2 linked regions of the Homo sapiens genome follow. The protein of the gene in region 1 purifies or fractionates together with the protein of each later gene. This does not show direct contact. Each region holds a gene or a part of one and is shown in the gene's direction. Other genes may lie near its edges.

Region 1 (3,500 bases):
AGGAAGATTCCAACATGATATTGAAACATATATACACACTGTGTATCTGCATTCCAAACCTGGCCAGAAGTAGTCAACCAATAGCCGATCTTTTTAACTCTAGAGGAAAGGTTGGCAAACTACAGACCATGAGCCAGATCCAGCTTGCTGCCTGTTTTTGTACATAAAGTTTTACTGAAACACAGCTATGCCTCTTCCTGTACGTATTGCCTGTGGCTGCTTTCCTGCCACAAGGACTGGGGTGGGTAGTTACTGCAGAGACCATCAGACTGACAAAGCCTAAAATACTATTAGGCCTTTTACAGAAAATTTTGGCTCTGCCCTGCTCTAGGGCCCTGAACCTCAGTTAACTCTACCCTCTTTAACCTCAGTTCATGAAATAGTATACGACTAGAAGCTCTACGTTTATATTTAACTTCTATTTGGGAAGTTTTTGTAAGAGTAGATAGAGTTCTGTTTTTCTGAGTATGATTTGGATATGTAGGAATTGTTTGTTTAGTAACTTCCCTATTTCTTATCCAGATCCTGTCCCTGGAGGCTGTAATTTGGAGTTCGATTTAGATATTGATCCCAACATTTACTTGGAGTATAATTTCTTTGAAACGACTATCAAGTTTGCCCCAGCAAACCTAGGCTATGCGAGGTACGTCTGTCTCCCATGTCTGAGAAATGCTTTTAGAATATACATGACGACAGTTGTGTAGATTTGACCAGCTCTCTCAAGTCCCTAATTCTCTGTAGTAAAATTGAGTTAATTTTTGGGGGGAATTGATGTAATTTAAACTTCACTATTAATATTTGGACTGTCATTTACAGTTAATATTTTCCCACTTCATTCTTGTGAACTCTTTTTATTTGAAGAGCCAGATGTGAGTCTATTATGAGCTTGAAAATACATCCTGGTTTTTATAAAGCACTTTAAATATAGATAGCACTCAGTAGCCCTGAAACATCCTTTTATTTTTATAAAGATTCATTGTTTTAATTAAAGCTGTGCCTCAGTTTCTGCTTTAATAGTAATGATAGCTAACATTTGAGAACACTTGAATGCTTCCTGTGCATTGTCCGTGGTGCTGAGTGTTGTTATGTTCTTTGCCATTTAATCCTAACAATTTTATGAAGAAGGGCAATTGCTGTTATTTTACAGAAAGTTTCCCTAGGGGTTATGGAGGTTACCCTACTTGCTAACAAATGACAAATCTGCTATATTCTTCTTCTTTTTTTTTTTTTTAAATCAAAGATGAGGTCTTTCTATGTTGCCCTGGCTGGTCTTGAACTTCTTAGCTCAAGCAATCCTCCTGCTTCAGCCTCCCAAAGTGCTGGGATTACAGGCATAAGCCACTGCACCCAGCTTTTTTTTAAAAAAAATTTTTTTGCCTCCCCAGAGCTGTAGTATTTTACTCTAGGCCTGACTGATATCAGAATCCAGTTATGTAATCACCTTTGCCTGTTGGTGTTTGTCTTAGTTTGTGGTGCTGTAACAAAGTAGCACAGACTGGGTGGCTTATAAACTTCTTTCTCATGGTTCTAGAGGGTAGAAGTCCACGATCAGGATGCCAGCACAGTTGAGTTCTGGTGAAGGTTCTCGTCCAGGTTACAGACTGCTGGGTTGTCATTGTGTCCACACATGACAGAAAGAAGGCTAGAGGGCTCTCTGGGATCTCCTTTATGAGGGCAGTAATTCGATTCATTAGGGCTTCACCTTCATGACCTAATTACCTTCCAAAGGTCCCACCTCCTAATATCATCACACTGGGAGTGAGGGTCTCAGCATATTAATTTTGGGGAGACACAAACATTCAGTCCATAACAGTGCATTACTTTTCTTCAGAATACCAATTGTTGCCACTGCAAAAGGTGAACTGTTAAATTGTAATTATTGTTGCAAGTGTTTGAAATTAGGGCTCTTGGTTCCTTTTTATAGATGGGACTTGCACCACAAGAGACTGATGTTTCATTTTGTTGGTTGACTTTAGAGGCGTAGATCCCCCACCATGTGACGCTGGGACAGACCAGGACTCCAGGTGGAGGTTGCAGTATGATGTCTATCAGTATTTTCTGCCTGAGAATGACCTCACTGAGGAGATGTTGCTGAAGCATCTGCAGAGGATGGTCAGTGTGCCCCAGGTGAAGGCCAGTGCTCTCAAGGTAAATCTGAGTCCCATGATTTGTGTGGCTGGATTGTGACACCTTTGTCAGAGTTGAGAAGGGGAGAAGCTACCAGGATCTTATTTCTTTACTCTTTTCTCCTTTTTGGGGGACACTCACTTTATTCTCTTTTGTTATCATCTTGGGAGTCTTTGCTGGTGATATCTCAAAATGATGTTGGCCTTTGAGGAGATGCATGTAAATTATGTTACGTTTTAGTTGCAGCCACATCTGTGACTTGGTAATCTGAAATGTGAATGGAAGGAGGTGGTAATTTTCTGTGTACTCCCACGACTACTGGGTAAACATTTTTGGCAAGTATGAAGATTACATTGTTTTGAGAAAAAAATAATGAGAAACTGCTTAAGGATATACACATTGGCATTCATATTTGAACCCAAACTCAAAGTCTAACTTGGAGTAAAATTCTTCTCTGAGCTTTTGAATCCATGTAAACCCTTGCTCCCCAGGTGTGGACCATGGACCAGTGGCATTGGCATCACTGGGGAGTTTGTGAGAATTGTAATTCTTAAACTCCACCCTGGAACTACTGAATCAGAATTTGCATTTTATATCCCTCAGGTGATTCTGACTGGGTGCAGTGGCTCACGCCTGTAATCCCAGCACTTTGGGAGGCCGAGGCGGGTGGATCACCTGAGGTCAGGAGTTTGAGACCAGCCTGTCCAACATGGTGAAACCGTGTCTCTACTAAAAATACAAAAATTAGCCAGGCATGTTGGTAGATGCCTGTAATACCAGCTACTTGGGAGGCTGAGGCAGGAGAATTGTTTGAACCCAGGAGGTGGAGGTTGCAATGAGCCCAGATGGTGCTGTTGCACTCCAGCCCTCAGGTGATTTTTATGCATATTAAATTTTGAGACTCACTGCAATAGATCATTTTTGTGGAGGGCAGGATTTTATCTTTATGTCTTGAAAAGTGCCTAACAGCAATATAATATATGAGGTCATCCTTCAGTCTAATGGTTGATGGGTGGAGTTTTTCTAGACAGCGTCATTGTGCTTATTCACAAAATAAGAAGCTCTGTTAGTAAAGTTTATTAGTTGCTTTATTAGATATGACATTTTAATACTATTATTATTTTTATGAAGAATATAAGAACTTGTATAATAGGCTTTTTGTAGGTTACTTTTAAACTTTTAGTTAAAAGAATATTTTGTACCAGAATGTGGGGAAACCCTCAAAGACTAATGAGGGTATGTCAAAGAGATTCAGGAGCCTGTTTGAAGGGGCTTGCACTGCCAAATTTGGGGCAGTTCAAGAATCAAGAAAAAGACTGTGGTTGTCAGCCTTGAATAAATACAAATGAAACCTTCCTCAGTTGCCACCACTG
Region 2 (3,500 bases), on another chromosome or scaffold:
GGCCAGTCGTTCAGTTAATCCAATAGTGGATGGCTGAAAAACGAAACATTTGTTCCATAAACATTTTTTGTCCATTTTTTATTGAGATACAACTTACATAGCATCAGATTCACAGAATTCACCTTTTAACACGTAAAATTCAGTGGCATTTAGTGCATTCACAGTGTGGTGTGGCTGCCTCCACTGTAACCCCAGAACATTTCATCCCAGGAGCCCATCCCGTGCTGGTGTCCCTTCTCCCCAGCAGCAGGAGGAGGGTGACCACGTGTGTGGGGTCCCAAGGAGGCCGTGTTCTGGTTGTTTGCCGACTTCGGCAGCTTCTGACACAGGCCTCTTCATTCTCCTTTATCTTCATTTGAGTTAACAGCACACAGGTAAGAGTCAGAGACATTTCTAGGTCTTTGTAGGTGTGCACGTGTGACATGTCTTATCAATGCAGACCCACCATGTGTGCAGGGGTGGCCTGGGCCCTGCTGGTTGGGTGTCCAGCTCCTTGCTTTTCCCTCTTTCTGTTTTCCCCCTGCGTCCTTCCAGCTGCAGCTCCCATGAGCTCTAGAGGTCACAGCTGCGTTCAGCTGATGGGGAGGAGGGCAAACCCCTCCCCTAAGGGCCCTTCTCCAAATCCCACTGAAACCCACTGGGCAAAGCCAGTCTCTGCCATAGCCAGCTGTGAGGAGGGCCGGGAACCGTGGACTTCACCCGTGTCCGTGTGCCCACCAGAGACTGACTCTGTCACTGAGGGCAGAGGGAAGACGCTGGGTCCAGGCCGGGCTCTGCTGTTGGGTGGGGTCCCCTCCCAGGGCGTGGTGCGCGTAGCTCCCTGGAGAGCCCCTGGGCCACCTGGGGCAGGAGGTGCTTCCTAAGCCCCCAGAGCTCCCAAAAGGGGCCTGATGGGCAGAGCAAGGCCTGCTCTCGGACAACCCCCGAGTCCACTACCGTCCCTCGGGTCAGGGCCAGCCTGGAGTGCCAGGAGGCCATGGGCATCGGAGGGTTTGCGCCCAGTTAGTTGGGCAACATTGAGCCCATGGGCCTGGAATAAGTGGTGACCTGCCCCGTCCCTTCTAGGAGGACATAGCAAAGCTGCTGCGCTACGAGTCCTCGGCGCTGCCCTCCGGGCAGCTAACCAGCCTCTCAGAATACGCCAGCCGCATGCGGGCCGGCACCCGCAACATCTACTACCTGTGCGCCCCCAACCGTCACCTGGCAGAGCACTCACCCTACTATGAGGCCATGAAGAAGAAAGACACAGAGGTGGGTGAGCGGTGGGTGGGGCGGGCTCCGGGGGCTGCAACCTGGGGAGGGTCTTGACCTTCTCAGCTCTGTGCTGGGTGAACCTGCCCAAGACTCCGGGCAGGGCTGCACAGTGGGTCAGGGTCACGGGCACAGAGGCCGGACCGACTGTGACGGCTGTTTCCCACTTGGAGGTCACATGTGGTTTTTTTTGTTTGTTTTTTGTTTTTTTGAGATGGAGTCTTGCTCTCTCGCCCAGGCTAGAGTGCAGTGGTGCGATCTCGGCTCACTGCAACTTCCGCCTCCTGGGTTCAGGTCATTCTCCTGCCTCAGCCTCCTGAGTAGCTGGGACTACAGGTGCACACCACCACACCCAGCAAATTTTTGTATTTTTAATAGAGACGGCATTTCACCATGTTGGTCTCGAACTCCTGACCTCATGATCTGCCTGCTTTGGCCTCCCAAAGTGCTGGGATTACAGGCGTGAGCCACTGCACTCAGCCACATGTGGATTTCTTTATGCGTGGAGTGCTTCTGCCTTGAAGGCAGTCAGAGCCTTCCTTAGACCCAGGTGTCGTAGTAACTGTCATGCAGGCCTAGGAACCCCAACTGCCCCGGTGTTCCCCAGTGTGGCCCGCTTGGCTCCCCCAGCCCTCCTGCCGCCCTCATCCTTTCTTCTGTGGTGGCTGGAGGCCCCCGGGGTCTGATGGAGCTGCTCTTGGCCACCTGCAGGTTCTCTTCTGCTTTGAGCAGTTTGATGAGCTCACCCTGCTGCACCTTCGTGAGTTTGACAAGAAGAAGCTGATCTCTGTGGAGACGGACATAGTCGTGGATCACTACAAGGAGGAGAAGTTTGAGGACAGGTCCCCAGGTCGGCATCCCCTGCTCTCTAGGCGTGGGGCTGGTTTCCACTCCCCGCACGCCTCTCCTGCCCCGCAGCGAGGGCTTCCTTTGGGTTTTCGTCAGTTGACCTGGGCTCAGCCACCCCCGAGAAGAGCCTTGTGGGAGCACCCTGGTGACTGGAGGAAGGTGCCTCCTGGTTTAGATATCAGGGGTCTGTCCAGTGCTCCTGCCACGGTGGCTTCTGGAGCTGGCCCAGCTTCTTGAGAGGCTGTGTATTTTTTTAAAGCCCTAACCAAGTTGTATGGGCCTCAGGCAACCTGAAGCATCCTTTGAGGTTTTACTTTTAGATGAAAAGCATCTTGCTAGCTTGTGTCTCCATCCTGGTGGGAGAGGAGGTGGGAGCTGGAAGCATGCTGCGTGGCCCCCATGGAAGCCGGGGAGTTGGGATGCAGGCCTGAGCTCCCTGTCGCCTGCTCTTCCGCAGCCGCCGAGTGCCTATCAGAGAAGGAGACGGAGGAGCTCATGGCCTGGATGAGAAATGTGCTGGGGTCGCGTGTCACCAACGTGAAGGTGAGGCTTTCCCGGGGATGGACCACCACTTGGCCGCAGTGTCCCTAACAGGCTGGCCAGCTGGTGGCTCCCAGTACCTGGCCCGTTGGGTGTCCTTCCAGCAGCAGCAGAAGCCCTTGGTGTCAGGTGGAGACCCTGTGGGTCCCTGCTCGGCACGTGTTGCTCGGGAGTGCCGCTGAGGCAGGAAGGCCGTGTCTTTCTCCCAGCCCTGCTCCAGAGCAGGTGTGAACTGAGAACTGAAAAACCAGCATCCTGAGTGGGAGCTGCAATGGCTGAGGACGTGGGGGTTCCAAACAAGGGACATGCTACCCCAGCCCTCAGGAGCTCACATGCTCACTTGGGTGCTTAGTCGGGGGTTTTGGGTGGGCTTCAGAGAGCTAAGACTCCCCCCACCAACCTGTCTAGCTCAGAGTGAGAAATGAGCGTCCCATGCATGGTCACTTGGAGGAAGGGGCCTCATGCAGGGTGGGCTGGCATGGAGCAGAGGACGATGGATTCGGGCAGCTCCTGGAGGCAGCAGCGGGGCACCAGGGTGGTGGAGCCCCTCGGGCACAGTATCTTTGCGTGGGGCATCAGCTCAGGGCCCACAAGTTAGTGGGTAATGGGGAGGGAGCAGCGCTGGTCCAGGGGAGTCCTTGAGACCCCGCCTGCTACCTCGTGGTCTGGGTGACCTTCACCCCTGGTAAGATCCTGCCAGCCCTCTCACATTGGGAACCTCTATCACCCTCAACCCCGGGCTTTGCTCACAGGTGACCCTCCGACTGGACACCCACCCTGCCATGGTCACCGTGCTGGAGATGGGGGCTGCCCGCCACTTCCTGCGCATGCAGCAGCTGGCCAAGACCCAGGAGGAGCGC

The links. The genes of interacting proteins can lie anywhere in the genome.
Region 2: the proteins of TM7SF3 (region 1) and TRAP1 fractionate together in Homo sapiens (co-fractionation; one large-scale study listed by BioGRID). This does not show direct contact.

The regions. Positions count from the first base shown.
Region 1 is NC_000012.12:26,993,885-26,997,384, reverse strand, and holds part of TM7SF3 (transmembrane 7 superfamily member 3 precursor), read left to right. Parts: intron 1-522; coding exon 523-643; intron 644-1,976; coding exon 1,977-2,148; intron 2,149-3,500. UniProt on the Homo sapiens protein: Involved in the inhibition of cytokine-induced death of pancreatic beta cells. Involved in the promotion of insulin secretion from pancreatic beta cells.
Region 2 is NC_000016.10:3,662,025-3,665,524, reverse strand, and holds part of TRAP1 (heat shock protein 75 kDa, mitochondrial isoform 1 precursor), read left to right. Parts: intron 1-63; exon of another isoform or gene 64-1,065; coding exon 1,066-1,251; exon of another isoform or gene 1,252-1,962; coding exon 1,963-2,101; exon of another isoform or gene 2,102-2,557; coding exon 2,558-2,643; exon of another isoform or gene 2,644-2,879; intron 2,880-3,392; coding exon 3,393-3,500.